Regions from separate parts of the Homo sapiens genome. Here region 2 is linked to region 1. Evidence: fine-mapped expression QTL. A gene starts in region 1. The other region holds a variant in brackets. All regions are shown on one strand. Distances are from middle to middle.

The links.
Region 2: its variant is fine-mapped to the expression of LXN in fibroblasts (GTEx, PIP 0.96).

Annotation. Positions count from the first base shown.
Region 1 is chr3:158,669,587-158,677,586 of GRCh38, forward strand. It overlaps LXN (latexin), which reads right to left and starts at 3,062. Exons shown (of 6, transcript NM_020169.4): 1 at 2,764-3,062; 2 at 1,371-1,433; 3 at 1-24. The coding sequence starts at 2,892. All of the region lies in intron 13 of GFM1 (G elongation factor mitochondrial 1), which reads left to right. RefSeq lists enhancers at 2,279-2,871, 2,386-2,445, 2,872-3,464, 2,886-2,935, 3,246-3,435.
Region 2 is chr3:158,763,503-158,779,477 of GRCh38, forward strand. The region is part of intron 4 of LOC100287290 (a long non-coding RNA gene); the gene reads left to right. It also overlaps the pseudogene RPL35AP9. Among named protein-coding and RNA genes, the nearest start is that of MFSD1, 31 kb to the right of the region's middle. RefSeq lists an enhancer at 4,965-12,081. The variant C/T (reference allele first, on the strand shown) is at 7,896.

The DNA of each region.
Region 1 (8,000 bases):
AGCTGTGCAGTTCACCTTAACTTGCTGTTTGAAATTTAGCAAAATATCCTTATATACAGAAGGCTATTCATTATTAATTATCATCTTTGAGATATGATTTAAAGCATAGGCTCCTAATGGTGTTGTTTTAGACTAGACTTCAAAGTGCTTGTTTTCAGAGGTATCTAATTGGGCCTGGCCTATTAAATTCTAGACTTATCATGTGAATACCCTAAAATAGATAACTTACTTTATAAATGATATGGTGTCATAATCTTATGAATTCTAGTCTTAAAACTTTCAGTATATTTCAGTATTAATGGGGTGTCCATTTGCAAGGCCAGATTTTAATCTGACTTTATATACCAACTCAAGACTGGTTACTTTTAAAGTTTTTCCATTACTCTTACTCTTTGCTCCTGAAATAACAAAGTTTTTGAAATGCAGATGCAGCAGTCTGTGTCTGGATATAAAATTAGAAGATTATGGCATTGGGTTATGCTTTGTAAAGATGGCTGTCTAGCAGCTCAGATGCCTTTTAATGAATCTCTTTATGAATTATGCTCAACAGAAAGGCAAGCTTTTTAAAATTTCAAGATGGCTGTGGTACAGATTGCAGTTCCTTTCTTTTAAGTTTGTCTCATTAATAATTTGACAGTTGTGTATAATCTTTAAAATTTCCCTTCCCCATTACTGAAAGATCTTCATCTGAATGGTGGTATCAGCTGGCATTCTATTGCTTCTGAATATCTAAGAGCACGTTCTTTCTCTAAAAACCCAGTGAAAAATAGAATGAGAAAAGCAGACGTTAAGAAGATGATTGATTGGGGAATAAATTACTTCACTCATTTATATTAGGCATAAGTTCAGACTGCCCTAAGAGTATGTAACTTCTTAAGAAATTCATTTGAACTGAAGTGTATAGTCTTTTTTTGTGTAGTTTGGTAGAAATAATTCATATACCTAGGAATACCCAAAGATAGTAAAGAACTGATCCTTGTAAACTTTGCCCATATGGTCAGTGTTTTTCAGAGGCAGGTATTTCACAACAACTTTTTAAAAAGAGGTAAAACTAATCAATCTTACAGATTTGATCAGCAAAGATGATCTGGAATATTTAGAATTAAATTTGTTTAATAAGAACATTTTGGCTGGGCTTGGTAGCTCATGCTTGTAATCCTAGCACTTTGGGAGGCAGAGGCAGGAGGATCACAAAAATTAGCCAGGTGTAGTGGCATGCACCTGTGGTCCCAGCTATTTGGGGAGGCTGAGGTGGGAAGATGGCCTGAGCCCGGGAAGTTGAGGCTGCAGTGAGCCATGTTCTGCCACTGCACTTCAGCCTGGGTGATAGAGTGAGACCCTGTCTCAAAGAAAAAAGAAATTTAACTTACTTTTTGTATAATTTCTTCAACAGCAAATTTAAGGTGATACTTATGTCCTCTTCCTGGAATATCCTAAAATTAAGAAAATGTAGTGGAGACAAGAAAATATTATAACAACATTATACTTGCATTGTTAGAAGTATGCATCTCATTTGGTTGGAGGGGCTGGCTGAAGGGGAATGGTGAAAGCCTTAGGTCTTGAAAAAGGCATGTCACCATGAATGTAACATCTAATTTAGCAAGTCCCCTATCAAGTTTATTTTGGATGAAAACAAAAGAGTAGGATAAAAGCATACAAATTGGGCACAATTCACTTTCAATCATCAAAAGACTTTATTTAACCCCTGGATCTGTGATCTTAAAGTCTCTACATAAGAAAGTTTGAAACAGCGTTTAATTCTAAAGATGACAATATCACCTTTGAAAAGATTTTTTCATAAAGCTCAGTGTACCCTCCAAATAATGTTCAATGAATGTGAATTTCATTTTGAGGCAGATTACTGCAAAGCAATTGGAGACTTAATACAATTAAGTATTGTTTTTACTTATACATTAGTGAAACTGCAAAATGATTAACAAATTATATAAGACTAAGAAATGGTATTTCACTTTTAAATCAAGATACAGATTGAAAATTTATACCTAATTCTGTTATCTGGTACAGTTTCAAAATAAGATCTACTGTGTCACCTCTAAAAGACTGTTAGCAGTTAAAATTCTGTCAGATAAATAAGGGATAATCTCAAATCCAGTAGATTTTCGTAAAATGAAAACAAACCTCGTTAGTGATTGCTGAGGCCTTAAACATTTAATTCAAGCCTTTAGCAGAGGGTGCACATCATTTAAGGCAGTCATGTGGTAGCGGTGTTTGGGTGGCTAAAGGCCAGCGTCAGCCCACAGTGCTTTTATTCTTTGACTTTGATTGTCAGTTTCTCTTGCTGTTTGTTTCCCCCTTCATTTTGGTCAAAGGGTCTGATAAGGATTTGTCTTAAAATGTAGGCAATAGAGTCTTGGAAGATGGGAGCTTTTGTTGGTCCAGATCAGAGTAGCAGATGAGAAACGTGGCAGCCTTAGTAGTCTTTTGAATGGTTTCTACAGTTTACACTTAAGGAAAGTGCTGCCCCTTACCTAGAGCGTGTTCCCGTTTTCTTGTAACTGTGTGCGTAAAAACTTTGTCTCTGCCTTAAGGTGAAAACAGTCCCGGGCTGTCTCCAGAGACTGGAGTATAGACATTCCCCCAGAAACCTTAATATCTCAAGACCAGATACCAGCAGTGTGTCCTAAAACAGAAGGTGGGTAGGGGGTGGCACGGAGTGTCTGCACCCAAAGGCTGAGACCGCGGGTGAGTGGAGGGAGCGCAATCCTGAAGCCTCTGCTGTCCACCACCCCCTGCTAAACTCACCTCCATGCTGGCTTGTTTGACCTTCTGCACCTCAAACACCCTGTGCGGGGTCCCCTGCTGGTAGTTGATGTAGTTCTGTGCCACCAAGGCCGCCCTGGAGGCTGGGTAGTTGGTCGGCGGGATTTCCATTCCGGATGAGCAGTGACTTCAGGGCTTGGGCTACTCTGGCTTAACGGGACCAGTAGCAGAGCGCCGCCCGTCCTGCTTGCTGCTGGGTCCGGTTGCCGAGGCGGAAAAGTCGCAAGCTCCTTCAGTCAGTCTTCTTCCTCAGCTCCTTCCGACTCCGGAAGCTGCTGTTTGGGCCCAGGCTCCCTGCATCCGAGAGCCCTGGGCTGACTGCTTCTGAGGCCCCGCCCCACTACTGCCTGCAGCGGGCTTCCTTACTCCGCCTGCTGGTTCCTACTGGAGGAGAGGCCAGCATGCTTGTCAGGCACCAGCAGGTGGAGGTGTGGGGAGGGAGTCAGTGGGCTAGGTTCGCTGGGATTGCATCTTTCGTTTCATTAACCTTTATAGAAGTGCAGGGTGGGGCTTTCGCTGATATAGGACATCTCTGAAGACTCTAGTTTCCTGTCCATGGGAAAAAAGTCTGGTTGCTTCGCTTGCATACTGGAGCACAACTTCCTTATACACCGCATGCAGCGTCCCTGGCAGGGCAAGGTACACAGTACTCCAGGTAGTGATTCGATTCCTTCATTTCCCTTCCCCTTATGAGAGTCCAGGAAGAGGCTTGCTCATCCTCAGCTTTTTGTGGGTTTGGACCAGTTCTGCCCAAATCAAAGTATGAGAATCTGCAAACTATAGTATTAAATTGGGAGATTATGTAATTTGGATCAGGAGAAATAAAAAAATGCACCTGTACCCCTCTCCTTTACTAATCTTAAAATGATAAGTTTTGATGTAACGCCATGCTTCCAACTTGAGTCATTTTGAATATTTTACTTCAAGGATTAAAATAAACTTAAAAACTGAACTTATACAAAGCACTCTCTCTGGTATGTGGTCTACCTCATTGCAATGGGCCTATAAACCTGACTTTGTAGAAGTACAGGTTTATCCTTGGTGGTCTTAGGTTAATTGGGCTAGGATAACTTGGAGATTCTACCAAAGTTTGGCCAAGGTCTTCGCTGCCTGGATTGAGACCTTTTTTTCTTTTCTTTTCTTTTTTTTTTTTTTTTTTTTGAGATGGAATTTCACTCTTGTTGCCTAGGCTGGAGTGCAATGGTGCTATCTCGGCTCACTGCAACGTCCGCCTCCTGGGTTCAAGCAGTTCTCCTGCCTCAGCCTCCAGAGTAGCTGGGATTACAGGTGCCCACCACAATGCCCGGCTAGTTTTTTGTATTTTTAGTAGAGACGGGTTTAGGCTAGGCTGGTCTCAAACTCCTGACCTCAGGTGATCCACCCACCTTAGCCTCCCAAAGTGCTGGGATTACAGGCATAAGCCACCATGCCTGGCCAGGACCTTTAACTTGGTAGTAATGCACACACCCAAGACTCTTGAGGTGTATCTCTTTCTGATTATGTAGATTCTGCAGTAAATCTGGATTCTGGACTTTGGCCTCAGTTTCATGCTTATTATTGTCTCCTGGGATTTGGGGGTTCTGATTGACTTTGCCTTTAAATACCATCTGTCTGCTTGCCCATCATCTTGTATCAAATGTCAATGAAACTTTTCTCAGTCTTGTCCGTGTATGAGAAATTTGCTTTGCGAGACACTGTCTTTCACACATGACCTTTTTTTTTTTTTTTTTGGAGACAGAGTTTCGCTCTGTTGCCTAGGCTGCAGTGCAGTGGCGTGATCTCGGCTCACTGCAACCTCCACCTCCCAGGTTCAAGCATTTCTCCTGCCTCAGCCTCCCTAGTATCTGGGACTACAGGTGCACTTCACCACACCTGGCTAATTTTTTTGTATTTTAGTAGAGATGGGGTTTCACCATGTTGAGTTCAGGCAATCCTCCCTCCTCTGCCTCCCAAAGTGTTAGGATTACAGGCATGAGCCACCGTGCCTGGCCTCTCCACGTTTCTTAGTTCAGCATTTGTTAAACCCTGACCCACCCATGGCAATATTTTTGCAAATACAGAATATCAGCCAATTTTCGATGGGGTTGTCAGATACGAACTTACACTGTCTCCTGGGATAAATTTACCAAAGAATTGGTGAAATTTGGGGAACTTTGACATGAAGAAGACTGTTCATTTGAGAGACACTTTAGAAGAACACCAGAAATAAAAAAATAAGACTTTCGGAGAACAGTATTTGTCTTATTTGTCTAAGAGCATTTTAAGTAGAAGACTGCCCATATTTTATTTCCATACTTCAAGGTTTTTTATTAATAACATGGCTTATATTTAAGCTTTTTCCTCTCTCCTTGAAAAGAAAAGATAATTAGCGTTTTACAGTGATAATTTCATATTTGTCTAAAACTGGCTGTAGCTCACCTTTTCCTGTTTCTCATTTTCTTTCATTAAAAATTTGAAAGATGATTCATGAGACTAAGTCATTCTGTCATTATATGTGCAGTCCAGGAATATCTAGTCCAAATAAACAGCCAAAAATGTCTAAGAAAAAAATCATTGTGCTTTAAAAAATGTGTAAAAATTAATGTGGTCAAATGAACTTAAATAGCCTTTATTATTATGTTTATAAGGAGCAAGTTTACGGCCGGGAGCAGTGGCTCACGCCTGTAATCCCAGCACTTTGGGAGGCCAACGCAGGTGGGTCACGAGGTCAAGAGTTCAAGACCAGCCTGGCCAATATGGTGAAACCCCGTCTCTACTTAAAATACAAAAATTAGCCGGGCGTGGCGGCGGGCGCCTGTAATCCCAGCTACTCGGGAGGCTGAGGCAGGGAACTGCTTGAACCCAGGAGGCGGAGGTTGCAGTGAGTGGAGATCATGCCACTGCACTCCAGCCTGGGTGACAGAGTGAGACTCCATCTCAAAAAAAAAAAAAAAAAAAAAAAAACAAGTTTTCAAGATAAAAGAGGAGCTCTTAAACATGATTTAATGATTTTTGAATATAAAGTTTATAAATTATATTTTTAAAAATGTATAAAATATTTCTGATTAATAGATGAATTTGGGTGAGCTGTAACAAAATAATATTTATTTAAAGTTGATTATATGTCTTCCAGGTTTTATTACATAATGATAAAATATTCCAAGTTCATATAAAACTGAATTTGATCTTTTCATGATCTAAACTTTCTAAATTTTATATATTGATCAAATGGGCCAAACAAGTTACTGATTCAATCAGTTGTATAAGATTACAAAATATAAAATGGTGTTTAAATAAAATTTTAATACAGATGTCTTTTAAAGGAGTTTTAATCTTATAAAATTATGCTTCTATTATAAAGACCAAATGTGTTAACTAAAATTATAATTTTTCAGATCTCCAGTTAACTTTCAGGCCCTTACATAATGTTCAATTAGTCCTGGGATAATTGGACAATTTCTGACTAATACATGATACAGAGCTTTGGTTACTAAAGAGAGTTTCAGTTTACCTTTATTCTTATACATTATAAAATGATTATGAATTAACACAATGTGCAGATACTTTGGTTGTTATATATGTGTTGTTTTGCCACCTTAAAATTATAGAAGTAATCTAAAATTTGTATTTATAAAAATTTAGCTAACCAGGTGCAGTGGCTCACACCTGTAATCCTAGCACTTTGTGAGGCTGAGGTGGGAAGATCGCTTGGGCCCAGGAGGTTGAGACTAGTCTGAGCAACATGGCGAAGCCCTGTCTGTAAACTACACAAATTAGCCAGATGTGATAGCATGTGCCTGTAGTTCCAGCTACTCGGGAGGCTGAGGTGGGTGGCTCACTTGAGCACAGGGAGGAGGTTGCGATGAGCCGAGATTGCACCAGTGCACTCTAGCTTGGATGAAAGAACCAGACCCTGTCTCAAAAAAAAATTTTAGCTTGACATTTCTTGGTTTTCTGTCTTCTGGTTTTCTCTTTGGGAAAGCAAAAGTTGATTACTTTGGTTAAAAGTGGTGATTAATAAGAATAAGAATATACTTGGTATAATAACTACAGAAAAACATGAAAATAAATATATATGTACACACAAGATATGAATTTTATTAGTTTGTTAGAATGGTAATTTCAATGTGATATATATACTGTTTTATTTAATATACTGATAAAGTGAGTTGTCAGAATATTACATTAAATATGAAATTTAAAATTAAAAACCTTAATTATATTTTCCATTTTTAAACAGACATACCTCATTTTATTCAACTTTATTGTGTTTCACAGATAGTATGTTTTTTACAAATTGAGGGTTTGTGATAACCCCATGTGGAACAAGTCTATCAGCTCCATTTTTCTTTTTCTTTTTTTTTTTTTTTGAGACAGAGTCTCACTCTTATCACCCAGGCTGGAGTGCAGTGGTGCAATCTCAGCTAACTGCAACCTCCGCCTCCCAGGTTCAAGCAATTCTCCTGCCTCAGCTTCCCGAGTAGCTAGGATTACAGGTGCCCGCCACCATGCCCGGCTAATTTTTGTATTTTTAGTAGAGACAGGGTTTCACCGTATTGGCCAGGCTGGTCTCGAACTCCTGACCTCAAGTGATCCACCCGCCTCGGCTTCCCAAAGTGCTGGGATTACAGGCATGAGCCGCCACGCCCGGCCTCACCTCCATTTTTCTAATAGCATATTCTAACTTCACATCTCTGTGTCACATTTTGGTAATTCTTGTAATATTTCAAACTTTTTCATTATTATTATATCTGTTATGGTGATCTGTGATTGGTGATTTCTGATGTTATTGTAATTTATTTTGAGGTACCATGAAACCTGCCCATATAAGATAGCAAACTTCATCCATATAATTGTATATGTTTTGACTGCTCTACCTACCAGTTGTGCTTGCACATTCTCTCTCTCTCTGTCAAAGCTTAATCCAGAGGAAGGCTCTAACTCTGTTCAATTTTATGAAGGCTGAGAGAGGTGAGAAAGTTGCAGAAGAAAAGTTTGAAGCTAGCAGATGTTGGTTCATGAGGTTTAAGGAAAGAAGCCATTTCTAACGTAAAAGTGAAAGGTGAAGCAGCAAGTGCTGATGTGGAAGCTGCAGCAATGATCAGTGGTCTCCTAAGATCGTTGATGATGTTGGCTACACAGAACAACAGATTTTCTTTTTTCTTTTTTTTTGAAATGGAGTTTCACTCTGTCGTCCAGGCTGGAGTGCAGTGGCACGATCTCGGCTCACTACAGTGAGC
Region 2 (15,975 bases), 98 kb after region 1:
CTGTTCTTGAAATTGAAGGTGTTTATGCCCGAGATGAAACTGAATTTTATTTGGGAAACAGATGTACTTATGTGTGCAAAGAACAACACAGTGGCCCTGGCAGCAAATCAAACAAAACCAGAGTCATCTGGGGAAAGGTAACTTGTGCCCAAGGAAAGAACAGCGTGGTTTGTGCCAAGTTCCAAAGCCACCCTCCTGCTAAGGCCATTGGGCACAGAATCCATGTGATGCTGTACCACTGGAGGATTCAAATTCATTGAAAAGTAAATAAATACAATTTTAGGTTTGTTAATTTGAAAAAACATGTGGGTATCTAATTTCTATGTGTTGGCAGGGCCAAACAGTGAAACACGGAGCTTCAAGGCGAAGGCAGCTTGTTAGGGTCCCTCCTTCTGACCTGCCCTTGGCAGCACATAGACAACCTGCCTACGAGGTCCTTCCCCCACTGCTGCACTGTCGCAGGGGGTCATTGATAGGTGTCTTATTTTTTATTTATTTTTCAGACAAGGTCTCACTCTGTAGCCCAGGTTGGAGTGCAGCGGCACCATCAGAGTTAGCATGGGATGAACTGTTGGAGAGAGGGCTGGACAATAGGACTGGACTAAGGGATCTTAGTCCTTACTAAGGAATATAGGCTGCAGTGGGCATCTGTTGTGTACCTCAGCAAGAAGCAAGGACCAACTCTTAGTTCTCTGAGGTGAATTTTCGGGAGTGATGGGGGAGATGTTTTGAGGACATCCTGAAACCACACCATAGGTGCCTCTGTAACCAAGTGGAGAGAGGCCCTTGGTTATAGAGTTAGGAGAACATGGATGCCTCTGGTACACAAAAAACCCTGCAGTGGGGGCTTAACTTCCATGCTTGGGAAGGTCCCCACTTGCCTTCCTGGTCTTGAGGGATTCTCAGATGGTGGCCTGCCTGCAAGTGGCTCCTCCATTGTGTTCTGTTAGGAGGGAGGGATGTATTGATGGAGACTGAGTGGAAGTGTTTTTGAAAACTTGTGTTTGGCTAAAAATAAACGATCAGACTTAAATGCTGCTTGGAAATCATTCTTTGTTTTACCAGTCAACTTTCCCTCCTATTCTTCATGGTGGTTACCTTAATATTTATTCTGTACCAACCTCCCAACCTAATTCCTCCACCATCACTTTAAGCAACCACTCATGCCTTTTACCTTTCAGAAAAAATAAAAGCCTCTTCCTGCCACCAAACTTACAAACTGACTAGCTCCACCCCATTCTCCTCTTTTTGTTGTGATGGAAGGAGAGTCCCTCCTCCTCTCCAGGGTGAATCCCTGCACATGCACTCTGTGCTCTTTCTCCTCTAGCTTCTCCCTTTCTATAATCTTCTCTTTCTCTATTTCTCCTGCCCCTTTCTTTCATTTCATTGTTTTAAGCATGCTTAAGTGTTGCCCATCTTCAACCAGCAAACTAAGCAACCAACCAACCACTTCTTACATGGAAAAACAGGCATTCTTATTCCTGGTTAGTAGCATGTAAATTGGTGCAACTTTTTGGAAAGGAAATTGGCAACACCTAATGAAATTTAAATGTCCATGCCCTTTGATCCAGCAACTCCACTTCTACAATGCATTTTAAAAGTGCATTTGCACACACTGAGACATGACTGAGAATGTTCACTGTGGCACTGTAACAAACAGCGCAAATATCCATCAACATGGATTTGGATTGCCATGTAGCTATTAAATAGAATGTGGTTGAACTGGATATTATCTGTGTATTATTCAATGTTCTTCAGAGAAACAGAACCAGTAGAGAGCCTCTCTCTCTCTCTTTCTCTCTCCCTCGCACACACACACACACGCACTCACGCATGCACACACACATCTATCTAAATTATAAATCCTCCACTGGGGAGGTCACTGGAGGACCATCAGCAGAGGAAGGGTCATCTCTCCCAGCTGTGTCAGGAGAAAACCAGATGACTTCCAATGTCCTGTGAGTCTAACTTTTTATATCATTAATATAACATTGTCAATAAAGGTTTAAAGCTTAATTTAGAAAAGAAGCATAGAATGTGCTTTATCATTGAGAAGGCCCTGGTAGTACTGTCCCCCGAATGACCTGAATCTCTCTGGGTTCCTGGCAACAAGCCACTGGGCACAGGGCTTCTACCCTGCCTAAGGAATTTCCATGGCTCACTTCCTCTAGAACCCTGGAAGGGGGACCCTTGATCAGCTGGCAGGAGATTCATCTCCACTAAGAGGCTTCCTTCCCACAAAAGCCTCCAGTCACATCCTTGGTTAGGTTTTGCCGCCTGCTCTCAGTCTCAAAGTCTATAGCAAAAGGCAGAGCTGCAGGGGCTCCTTCTCCTGGAGCACAAGACAGGCTGCATCTGGGGTGCCTGGTTTAAGTATATTTTTCTTGGGTGATGAGTGGCTTGGAAAGGACATGCATCATCTTGCTGCCCTCCTCTGCTAATTTAAGCTGCACAATGCTTGTGGTGTTTGCGTCAGCTCTTAATTTTGACAATGCAAATAACTAGGGCAACACTGTCCAATGGACCTATCTGTGATGTTGGAAATGTTCCATAATATCTGTGCTGCCAAATATGGTAGTCACTAGTCACATGTGGCTATCAAGCATGGGAAAGGTGGCAGGTATGACTGAGGAAGTGAGTTTTAAATTAAATTTAAATTCATTTAAATTTAAGAAAGCACATGCAGCTAGTGGCTGCTGTGTTGGGCAGTGCGGCTCTAGGCCCTTGAACAGAGTTAGCGTGGTCTTGGTTAAGCTCTAGCCTTGGAATGTTAAACTGATCTTCTTGAAATGTGCTCTGATTCTTCAGCTGGAGAGCTAGTATTAACTGTCTGTATTACCTTTAAACCAACCAATTAATCCATCAACTAACCAGTTTACACCCCCTGCCCACCCCCTGACTTTCATGGCTTTCACAGCCATCTCTATGCTGATGCCTTCCAAATCCCAGATTTTCTGCTGAGCTCCAGACCCAAATGCACAACCATGTGATGGACATCTGTCTACACTTGGATGTCCTACAGGTGACTCAGATTCAACCAGCTCAAACAAAATCATTGTCTTCCCACTTTCTCCAAACCTGTTTTTCTTCTACGTGCTCTAGCTCAGGAATGGCACCTCCATTCTCCCACTTGCTTGTACTAGAAACCTGCAGCTTGATCTTGACTTCCCCCCCTCTCTCATCCATCTCATTCATTCAGTTTCCATGATCTATAAATTCTGCCTCCTAAATGATTCTTAAATTCTGCTACTTCTCATCATCTCCACTACCACTCCCCTGGTTTAAATCACTATTTGATATTTCTAAAATGCAAATCTGATCATGTCCCTTCCTTGCTTAAATTACTTCAGTGACTCCCGATTTCTCCCAGGATAAAGACAAACCTTCTAACACGATCCCTATGTGATCTTCCCCTGGCATCTCTTACCTCCCCTTTGGCTACTTCTTCCCCTTGCATTCTCTGTTCTAGGTTTATTCCAAATAAATCACAGCATCTCTCGCCCACCTGCTTTGGCTTAATGATTGCTACTTATCTTTTAGGTGTCAGCATTTAGAGGTTACTTTCTCTGTGGCGATCTGGGCCACATGTTCCTCTCTGTGCCCCCACAGGACCCTGCAATTTCCAGCTCCTCCATGTGACTATAGGTTCCTTGAAAGCAGAGCTTTGTCTGTCTTATTTACCACTGACACATAGTTGGTGTTAAGCCTCCATAACAGAATCCTTAAATGGAGCATGTTTGGGGCAGGGCTTATGGGGATCTTCCTCCTGTGACTTCTTCAGCTGCTTTCTGCACTCATGGAGATTTTCCTACACGCCAAATCTATGCTAGAGGGCCTGCGTGGTTCAAGGAAAATGGCAGCTGGAGCCCTGTCCTCCTGGTGCTGATCTCAAGAAGTACTTCGTTTGGAAAGAGCAAGAAGAGAGGCCTTTCTCCCTACACCTGAACATAGAGCCACTAGGTTAATCAGCATAAGTTCTCAGGGCAGCCTCAAACAAATTGGTGGAGTCTATGTAAGTTCACAGGATGGACAAATGTATGTGAACAGAACACAAAATAGAAATTGCCAACAGTTTCTCATATTGTGGTATGATAAGCTTACAGCCATCAGGTGCAAGGTTTTAATTTTTTATTCTTATTTATTTATTTTGAGACAGAGCCTTGCCCTGTCACCCAGGCTGGAGTGCAGTGGCACGATCTCTGCTCACTGCAACCTCCGCCTCCTGGGTTCAAACGATTCTTCTGCCTCAGCCTCCCAAGTAGCTGGGACTACAGGTGTGCGTTGGGATTACCGGCATAAGCCACCGCACCTGGCCTAATTTTTTATTGTTTAAAAAATATTTTTTGAGGGTCTCCTGTGTGCGTCTGTTCTAGATGCATGTAGTTAGAGCTGAGCACTCCAAAATGCACACAAGCAGCCAAGTCTCCGGAATTAACTGTCCCACAGAATGCAAGAGCCTTTTAAAGACTGTGCTCCTCTTATAGTCATCTGATTTCCCAAAGTCAGAGAGGTTGAAATGCAAAGAGTATGCATTTTGCTAAAAAGGAATATTTATAAAACTGAAAGTGTATTGCACCTCCTGATATTTTTATGAGTAAATAAAAGCAAAGTAGCCAGAGCTAAAGAAATGCCTTTAGTAAAGACTCTACACTTGGAAGTCTGAGCAATTGCAGAGTGAGACCAAGAGTTCTCCTCCATTAGGATACTCCTCCTACAACTAGGAAGGGGCTGCTCTGATATTGACTAATGGGGCTGACATTGGACCTGGTGGTTTCCTGAGCACACAGGAGAGGAGACACAGAATTCCAGCACTAGAAAACACCAAAAAAAGGGGTCCAGATCAGGGAACAGTTTCTCAGTTACTGATGGACAATGGTTTAATCATTATTCCAATGGGAAGAAGTACCCAAGGTTGGTGGTGGGGGCGGGAGTTGGGAAAGTAGGGAATCAATTGACTTCTGCAGTCACTGTGAGTGAGCAGGACAGGCAGCTGGCCAGTGCCCCTCCCACTTCCCTGCCGGCAGAGAAGGAAAGAGAATGGCTGTTTCTCTGCCTTAGAGTTAAAGCACCAAGGGAAACATGAGAATGCTTGCGGGAAGCCGACCACGTTTGCTCTTTGCTGACTTTTGTTAACAGGTGTCAGTTGGTGTGACACTGTCTTCCCTATTCCCATCCTCGGCACGAACACATATGTGGGAAATACTCTAGGATTTGCAGCCAGTGTTGGGAAAGCCTGTCCACTCCACACCAGGCCCACAGTAGCTCCTTCCTCTGCACCCACAACTCGGCTGTCTGTGGTCACTGGTTTAAATTTTCCTTTATTCACATTTTGCCTCCCCAAATGGATTGTAATACTTTTGAAGATGGGGAGTATCCCTGGCACATCAGTGGTGCCCACTTCATACATAACAATACACACAGAGGTCGTTAAAACTCTGAGTGAATCGGATAGAAGTGCTGGAGCCAAACAGTGTAGTACCTAATGTGTGTTAGGCACTCACAATGCATGAAGAATAATGGGCTTGTCTATTGTTCATTCGTTCACTCTTTCATTCATTTGAATGTGTGGGAAATGCTCAGTCCATTGGGTCAGTAGAGAAGCCACTCGCAGTTCTTCGTGTTGGTAAGAAAGGCTCAAGGGATAGACCCTCTGCACTAATACCCCCGCATATCTGCATCTACTTTGTCTCCTTTCTATTTGTTATGACATTTTTGGCTTAAAAAAGAAAAGATGAAACAGAGTTCAAATGAAGTTCATTGTGTGTTTCCTCACAGCTTACACTTGGCAATCTTCTAGGGAGGACTTTGGCTGAACCCAGTGAACCAGGAGGAAAAGAATCACAAACATCTGGAGTTTGTTGACTAGAAAAATTCCTTGTGGTCTGACAGATTACCATTTCCTACCCAGCCATTCTCATCAGAGAAACCAGTCCCATTTTCAACTGGCGCGGCTAGTTGAAAGTTCCACATGTTTCCCCAGGTATCTAAATTATATGCTTCTGTGTTGATTTTTCAGATTAGGCAGAAACTTTGACTTCTTCCTATGAAAGATGAAGATTGAGCACTTTTGTTCCCCTATTCTTCCAATGTAATTATATTGTATTTTTTAATTAAGTAACTACTCAAAGTTAACTGTTGTGATTATTATAAATGTTTTCCCCGGTAAGGCACACAGTGTACACTGATAATACTTCCGTTGTTATACAACTTCTTTTTCTCCCTGGAGTTCAAAATTATCTTGTTTTGATATTTTTCTGTCCCTAATTCTCCTCCAACGCATTGCCAGCAGTGTTAATCTCCTCTTAATAGTTCAAACACATCAGGTAATCAACTGATTTTTTATTTTTAACACATCCCCTCTGGAGCCCATTGGCTTCCTGCTCTGATGTGTCGTTCAGTTCTCCTTAGTTGGATCCCTCTCTCTTGAATCCTTTGTATGCCTTTTTCCTGGTTTGCTCTTTCATTTTGTGGAATATATCCTCCAGTACCTTCCCAGTAAAGCCTGTTTGGATTCTATTGGATTTTTTTTTCCTGTTTTTATATTTTTTTAGAACTGAGAGCTCATTTTTGTTTTATGAGTAGTTTGTTCTTTTTTGTAGATGCAGTTATATTCTTTCTCCGAAGATATTAATTACAGTTTTCCTTAAAGTTTATTCTGCTTTTTGTGCTGTGTTGGCTTTCTCTGAATATGTATATTTGATTATAATCCCCAGTAGTCATTGTTTATAAGTCTTTTCTTTGAGGAGCTCAGTTTCTCCAGAGAAGAAATTTGTAGCCTGTCGCCCCATGTGTCTAAGCTGAGTCACCAGGATTCTCAGATGCAGTGGCGAAAGGCTGCAGGCTGTTCTCGCCATTCAGCATGCTGACTTGGCCCTTATCCCCTTCTCTGGTATGTCTTCTGTAGGATGAGAGAGGTGCCTTGTCTGATGGGAGTGGAGAAGCGATCAAAGGATCAAGCTGTATTTAGTATAGCCTTTTAACCAACACCCCACAACCAGAGAGGTTCCTGGGGCCTCCAATTCTATGCCTACCAGGTGCTCCGGGGCCAGTCTGTTGTCTTCCTGCCTCCTCTCTGCAACCTGTGCCTGGTCTCTAAGTTACTCATCATTTACCACCTGCTTTCCGGTTTCCGACATCGTGTTTACCTCTCTCTCTCCACACTTGCTCCTTTCTCTTTTAGCCTTGTCCTTGAGATGGTTTGTTTATTTGTTTTTTGCCTTTAACAAAATCTCGATACTGTAGTGAATTTTGGGGGTGGGAATATAGGCAAAAGACAATGTTCAGCCCACCATTGTTATGGTTTAAATGTGTCCCTCAAGTTTCATGTGTTGGAAACTTAATCCTCAATGCAGCAGTGTTGACAGGTGGGACCTTTAAGAGGTGATGAGGTCATCAGGACAGTCTTAATGCCATTATCTTGGGAGTGGGTTAGTTACTGTGGGAGTGGGTTCCTGATAAAAGGATGAGTTTGGCCCTGTTTTCTCTCTCTTTCGCTTCCACCAGAAAATGGCATAGCCAGAAGGCCCTCACCAGATTCCAGCACCAGCCTCCAGAACATGAGCCAAATAAATCATCGTTTATAAATTACCCAGTCTCAGGTATTCTGTTTTAGCAACACAAAACAGACAAAAACAACCATGTTTACTTGGCTGGTTGCCCCATCTTTCTTGAATGGAAAAAAAAAAAGCACTTGAAATAGTCTGTGGAAATTCTACCCAGTTTGGAAATGCTGCTGAATTCTCATGTCTCTAGGCCCAGTTCACAACCCTCACTGAGCTGATGCTACCAGGTAAAAAGCGAGCAATTACGGTGTGCTGACCATTTGAGTGAATAAATTAGTCAGGTGTTCACTGGTAGCACTGTTGACTCCTCTGAAAGCTAATGGACTCCGAAAA[C/T]TCAGAAGAGGGGAGAGTACAGCAGCCTTAGTAAACTTGGGAGAAGTGGCTTCCATATCTGATTGCAAATTAGAATCACCTAGGAAGTTTTCAGAATTATAGATTCCTAAGGATGATTCCAGAACTAGTTGAATCCTAAGCTCATGAGCTAGGTCCTGGATAAACTGCATTTTTACCAACAAACTACCCACTTACAGCCTTCTTGTTGTGTGAAAGAATACACCTGTAGTGTTTAAGGCACTGTTAATCATATCTTTTGTTGCTTAGAGCTGAAAGTGTTCCTAACAGATCTGCAGGGCTCATGAGAGTCCTTAGACACTGGAATGGGGAGGGTGTGTTCATTCAGGGGAGTGTGGATATGTAATCAGGGCTTGGCAAACATCTCTGGGAATATGCAACCAGCTGAGGGGCTCCTGGGGCTCCCAAGACTTCCAATGTGGACCTGCTCCTCACCATGTGCTCCTCCCCTCCCTCGGCCCAGCACACCTTACTCTGGTCTCCCTGGAGGCACTGGGATAGGGCTGTCTGTATATCCCTGTCCCTGGTCCACATGTCTCTGTGCTTTGTGCCCCAAGCCTTGCTTTTTTGATTCTTGGATGCTGTTTTAGAGTCACAAATATGAACGTTGACATTTTTGGCTCTTTTCAGTCCCTCTTTACCAACTGTACTCTTGCGTGAGGCTGTTTGGTCACTGTACAAGGAAGTGAGCAAAGAAAAACCCACAGATTAATATCTCAAGATAATATCTTGCCATACATATTGATAACAATCAGCCCATTGTTGCATCCACCCCTACCCTACCTTCAGCAAGATAGCTGGGTTCACTCCCAGAAACTGCTGGAGGCAGATTATGCGGATCCCACAGAGATGGCAGAAAACAGAGAAATCTGGGGAGAGGGCAGTGGCTGGAGCCCAGGGACTAAAGAGTGCAGTGGGGGTTTTTTATGGCCTTGGGGTAGGGAGTGAACTCCAGAGCCAAAGTCCCAAGTCAGGGAGGCAATGGTAGACAGTATAGTCCCAGAGGGGTGTGCTCATGGATGCAGGGGAGGTAAGGGCTGTGGGTGGGGGTTCCAAGCAGCTCTTTTTATTGAAGAAGTCACAAAGGCAGCCCAATTTCAAGGGGAAGGGAAATAGATTCTATCTCTTAATGAGGGAGTAGAAAGTTTCTGGATGAGCATGTGGACTCAGAAACATTTTGTGGCCATTTTTGGAAGATACAATCTACTACAGCAAACATCCCACTAAAAGGCTGGTGCCTTGGGAACAGTAGGATAATCAGACTTTCACATGGCAGTGGGAATTTGTTTCAATTCTAATGGCTAGCTGAAGGGAAGGGGTAATTTTTGACTAGGGTTAGAAGATACTGGTTTGAGAGCATTCGGGGGGCAGGCCAGGCCACTGGGGAGATAACCTAGTTTAAGACTTGGAGTCTGGGGTGCAGGAAAGAGTGAAGAGGAGGGGACGGTTGTAGCACCCTGACATGAGCCTGCTCATCCCTTGGGGTCAGCATTTCTCACCTGCCCCTATTGGTTTCTGCACAGCAAGCCTCGCACCCCCTGTGAACACTCTTCAGAGACTCCTGCGGTGCTTCTCTCTCTTCCTGTTACCCGTCACCCCTCGTTCATTCCTATCCTTCTACCTCTGCACAAGGTGCTCCCTTTAGGGGTCCCACAGTGTCCTGTATATCCCTCTCTTGTTGGGCTTATTAGTCTGAACTGTCACATACTGGTTCTTTGTCCATCACTAGTACAGGGCTGTGAGCTAATTGAGAGTAGGAACTGTGATTTTGACCCCTGTCTTCCAAAATGTCTAGCAAAGTGAGAGGCCTCAGTCATGTTCACTGAATGAATGAATGAATTCTCCAGCACTCATTAGGCCCTGAGACCACTTATCTCTCCCATCAGAGGCCAGTGATATTTCTGAGGCTGAAAATGTTCTCCTCTACTCTTTTCCAGCAGTCAGCTCTCTTGGGCTCACCAAGAACCATGTCAACAGCCAGACTTGCTGCACTGCTGATATATGCAGCTCCCTTATCACAGCCTCCCAGTTCTTGTCTTTCCTTTCTTCTGTTACAGGCTTGTTTTTCACCATCAGGGTGACAAGGTCCCTCAGATAGAAAGTGGCAAGACCACAATTTGCACCCAGGTCCAAAAACCCCTGGTCTCTGCCTTTTATTAGCAGTGTGACTCCCGCGGCCGACTCTTCCCAGCCTGTGTTCTAAACATGCACCCTCACCCACATCAGTTCTTCCCTCTCTTCCTTACATTTTCAATTGCTCTCTCTATTGCTTCCTTCCCCTTAGAATATAATTATGTGCAAATGGCTCCTATTTTAACCCATTTCCACCCATTGACCAAAAGTTCCTTTCTAAATATTGCCTGTTTTGCTTTCACACCCAAGTTTCTTAAAAAGCATCCTGTGTCTCTTTCTTATGAACACTGTGCCCTGCTGTCTTCCTTTTCCTCTTTTCCATGTTTCTGCGATGGGCCAATTACCCCCTGGATGACACATTCTTTCTAGGGGGTTTCATACATTCAAGTTTTCTTGGCTTGAAAATCGCTCATCTTTTCAAGGTAGACTTTTCAGCATTCTGTTCCATTCTGGCAGGTGTTATTTTTATGAATTGGCAGTAGGGGGAGATAATTTTGCTTATATAGGTATGGGTTTTTGGCCTCTCATACTATATATTCACATTCTACCTAAGTGGAGTTGACCTGTACAAGGAAAAGATGTGAAGCTGAGTTACCTGGGAGCTCAAGAAACAGAACATTTAGATGAAACACTTGGTTGCTATTGTGCCAATAACTTTTCTCTTTTCCACTCTCCTGAGCAGCAGTGCTGCGGCTTGAACTCTGTGTCATGCTCTTTGCATCAATGCTGGGCAAAGTCAACTTGCTTTCCCGTAAGTAGTAGAATTATGGGAAAGTAAAAAGATTTCTTTCCACCTACCTCATAAGGGAGTGGCTGAAGGCCAGCTTTAATAGAAATGATGCTTTGTTACTCAATATTAACATTTGCAACATTAGGAAATGCAGTTTGAGTGTCTTTGTTTGTACTCTATTATCCGTTCATTATTGTCATGTTCTTCCTTAAAAGAAGGTGGGGCATCTGCTTGTTGGATTCAGGCAGAGCATGATTTTTAATATGTATATTCTTGGTCTTAAGCCACGAAAGTGTTGTAAATCACCAGCAAACAGCACTAAGTATTATCGTCCTCTAGGCACTGAAAATTTGAAATGAGCTGCTGACCCAGATTCTTTGAAGAGAATACTCAGTCATAAAATATTATTTCCTGTATTTAAAAATTACTTTTTTTCACTTCAAAGAAAATGAAGTGAAAAAAAATTCAGTCAAAGAAAATTACCTGGTATTTGTTACCCAGTTATGTGTTTTGGTTGAAAGTTCTTCTAATTAACTGTGAAGGAGTAATGTGATCCTCCTCCACCTTCTTTTTTTTCCAGTGTATTTGCTTCCCCTTTTCATTTTCTAGGTCATGTAAGAAATCTTAAATTAATTGTACAATTTTTTTCCAAGATGCTCAAAATCCTCTAGTTTTTATCATCTGAGTTCAGACATCCATGCATATGCCAGCAAATATTATTGTTTATAATAAAATTTCCTCCCGTAATCATCAAAGAGATAAATCAGATTTCAAATCCCAACATCAATGCGTTCATTTCTCAGAAATACTTCATGCTCATAAACAACTTCCACTTCTGCCCACCCACATGCATCTCTCCTGTGGCTCTGAAACTGCATGGATGAGGAGTAATCAGGGTCCCTCAAACATGGTGCTGGAAATTTTGCATGAAATGAGTTAAGGAGCACAACAGTATGACAAGAACCAGATGGCATACTTTTCCAAGAGGAAGTCTTGACTCTCCCTGATGTACTTACTGCCAGAGAAAAAGTACTATTTAAACTAAAAATTACTGCTTTTGTCTTCTGAGCATCATTTTTCTGGGGTCTTGTAATATAGCCTTAACACTTTTTTCTTAAGTTTTTGGAGTATCTTGAAAGGCCTATATTGACTTTTTTTGTTTTTGTTTTTGGTTCTTTCTTCAAAAGGTGAGGATGAGTGGGAGACAGTAACACTCAGATTGCTGAAACACACAGTACAATAAAAGAAGATGAAACTGAAATGTCAGGGTAGCTCTGGAGAGGGAAGAAGAGCCTGGGAAAGGAGAAGCAGTGGAGATAAGAGCAGAAGGATGGGGAGGACCCAGGGACTGGTGGTGGGATGAGTATGAGATCAGGGCTGCCAGTAGAAAACCCCCAGGGCTTGGATGGCCAAGGACCTTTTAAGAACAATGATTAGCGGTTTTCAATTTCAGGTTGCTGTTGGTGAAGCATGTCCAGGTTCTTGGCATCTTGAACAAAGAATTGGGCAAAACACACAAACAAAGTAAGGGAAGAGTGAGGCAACAAAAGCAGAGATTTATTGAAAATGAAAGTACTGTCCACAGTGTGGGGGTGGGCCCGAGCATAGGGACACAAGGGTCCTGATACACAATCTTCTTGGGTCCAAATACCTCCTAGAGGTTTCCCACTGGCCACCTGGTGTTCACCCATGTAAATGAAGTGGTGGCCTGCAATCAATCTGGTTGCTTTCCACTCAGAGGCTGAAGTGGTTACAAGGGTCACACTCCTATGCAAACTCCTAAGATTCACTTTAGCATGAGAGGCTAAGGTGAAGTTACAAAGTTGCACTTTTATGCAAAGGAAGACTTGGTCCGCAATCAGTCTGATTGGCTGTGGACAGCAACCAGTCAGAGGCTGAAGTGAAGTTATGAAGTTACACTCCTATGCAAACATCTGATTGGTTGCTTGGCACCAATCAGAGATACTTTCAGTTTCCCATCTGCCCTGTAGAAAAGGTGGGGGTTTGCAAAGGGAGTAGCCTCTGGTCCTTTTGTTACTTAGGCATGGAAAGTTAGGGTTTTCCTTTCAATTTAGTTCTATGAAGTCAATGTGAAACAGCCTTAGGTTCCCTGCCTTCAGACCCTATTCTACCTCAAGGTTGTTCTGTTTGGTGGGTACGCTGTGCTCCCTCTGTGTTATCCCAAAACCTTCATGGAGAGCCTGCCATATCTGGCAAATTTGTACAGGTGGATTTGGGGACTGAAGGCAAAAAAGGACCATGTTCACCTGGGAAAGAAGTGACATGAGGGACAAGAAGCAGGGGCATGAGTGGGACCACAGGCCACAACTACCCCCATGCATCCCAGTACCCTGCAGGGTGGCATTGGGAAGGGCTTTGGGATCTTCCCACACAACTCCGGTGAGGTTTGTGTCTGTGCCCGAGAGAAGCTGCACAAGAGGAACGCAGGAGGCCAGGGCTGGGGAGAGCGGCCTGGGGAAGGGTGGGAAGGCTGCAGGGCAGGCCTGGGGGCTGGAGGGGCAGTTGTGGCTGTTAGGAGGGAGTGTGGATCGTGTCACCTCCTGGGTTCCCTTGAGATATTTGGCGGGCTGGACGTGAGGGGGAAGAATCTGATAAAATACTAAGTTCTTTTGACCAACTAAGTTGGAGCATTACAGGCTGGGGCTGTGTTACAGACTGGAAGTGGGGCCTGATTTGGGTCTCTGGAGCTTCTGAGGTCTGGGACATTTGGTTTGCACAAGCCACTGAATCCATTTTTTATGAGAGACAGAAGCTGGATTAAATGATAGCTATATTTCTTTAATTTTTCCTATTCAATAATTGAAAGATATAAATTTCTAGGTCCTCTGTCTCTCCCAATTTGGCCAACACCGGTAGAGAAGCCACTAACTATTTGGTTAGTTTCATTTTACTTTTAGACTTCTAAAGGTACCTGGCTATTTACATTTAAGGGGACCCATCAAGTGCTAAATTTGTTGACTCTTTAATAAAAGAAAATTTTAAGAAAAGAAAAAGGAACTGATATATTTCACAACTGGTAAATTACAGTAAGCTAAAGTCCCATGACATTCCAGAGTGCCTCAACCACCCACAGCACTCTTAGAGATAATAAGGAAATTTCAGACTAACCAAACTTGTCCTGTGTATTTTCTTCCTGTGGTACATATTAGACTACAAAGCTTGCAGTAGAAGAAGAAAAGACAATCACTGTGTACTGCTGGGTTGTGGGTTCTGAAGCAAACTTGAAATTGAAGGTTAAAGCTGGGCAAATGTAGCAGAATGATCTGTTTCTGGAGAAAGTGATTCTAATGCAGAGATTATGGCCTGAGATTTTGAGAGGGGGCAGTGAGTGTTGTGGGGGCAGGCAATGGCCTGCTACGCAGACAGGATGGAGAGAGATAAATGGTCCTCCTGAAATAGTAGCTTTTGGGGTAGATATTACTGGTGACACAGCAGAACTGAGTGATGTACTCCTTGCTGGGGAGGAAACCAGCATTTTAAAATTCGCTACATATTTATGACCCTTTGGACCATAATCCTGGAGACCTTTGCTGTTCTAAGTGTCTGATGAGGACTCCTGAGCTGCCGGGTTCCAAGATGCAGCTGCCAGATTATGTTTATTTTTTGACAAAAACAGGAGCTGGTGGATCTCAAGTCTGGGACAGGGCCCTGGTGTCCTGCTGACCCTGATTGGAATTCATTTAGAAAAATGCAGATGGGCTGCACCGTTTCTTACTTAAGGATATAATATACCCATAATACTTTAAATGAAGTGCTGGAGATGTTTTCTAGAGGTCTCACCTTGCAAGAGATCTAGTGGGCTAGATGAAGCTAACCATCAAACTGCTGCCCCCGTTTGAGTCCCTGAGACAACTTCATGCCAGTCAGGACTCATACAAGTTAGGAGCTTTGTGATAATGAGTTCAGAATTAGTAGTGTTTCACTCTTCAGACTTGTCTTGAATTCTATCAATGACTTCCCTCAGTGGAATTTGTTTATTTATTTTTGAGATGGAGTGTCTCTCTGTTGCCCCGGCTGGAGTGCAGTGGCATGATCTCGGCTCACTGCAACCTCCGCCTCCCAGATTCAAGTGATTCTCCTGCTTCAGCCTCTTGAGAAGCTGGGATTACAGGCATGCACCACCAAGCCCAGTTCATTTTTTGTAATTTTGGTAGAGATGGGGTTTCACCATGTTGGCCAGGCTGGTCTGAAACTCCTGACCTCAAGTGATACGCCTGCTTTGGCCTCCCAATCTCAGTGGAATTTAGATCTGTCAATTTCTTACTTTTTGTATTTTGAAGCTATGTTATTGAGTGTGTTTGGATTTAGGACTGTGATATCTTTCTGTTGGATTCAGTCCTGATCACATAAAGTGCCCCTCTTTATGTTTGGTAACACTTCTTGCATTACAATCTCTTTTGTCTGATATTAGGATAGCTACCTCAGCTCCCTTGTGGTGAATATTTACATGGTGACTCTTTTTCTATCCTCTCACATTCAATCTATTTCTTATACTTAAAATGTGGTTGTTGTAAGCAACATATATTTTTATCCAGTATTACAGTCTTGGCTTTTTACTTGGGTTATTTAGTTAGTTTATACTAAAACTGATACAGTTGAGTTTATTTCTACTGTCTACCATTGGTTTCTATATGTAGACCTGTTTGTTTTATGTTTCCTTTTTTTCTTACCTTTTTTGATTAATAAAATATTTTTTATTATTCTGTTTTACACCTTCACTAACTTGCCATAGACTTCATTACTGTCTGCTTCCATTTCCTCATTGCTAATCTCTGGCTACCTTCAGTTCTGGATTCCATCAGTTGAAGAGGAAAAGTAACATTCTCCAAGTGCTCAGGGTGAGCAATAGATAGTTTAAGCTTAGAAATGAATGGGCTGGAAGGATAAATAGAGATAAATAGAGATGGAAAATCACATTCCATGAGATACATGGTTTTATAATGGAAGGGGCTGCATTTTCAACAACAGAAAAGAGAAATAATGTCAGTTATTCTAAATATTGTATAGTAAAACTTCCTTGGCTCCAAATGTAGCCATGTTTCCCAATTTTCTTACACTTACAGATACGTCTGTCCTTTGAGAAGAAGTCATGCTATTGACATTCTGAAGTCAAAATTAAGCATCACTCATTATTTAATTGCTTAATTTACTGTAATCCTTGGATGAGTTTAGTAAAAG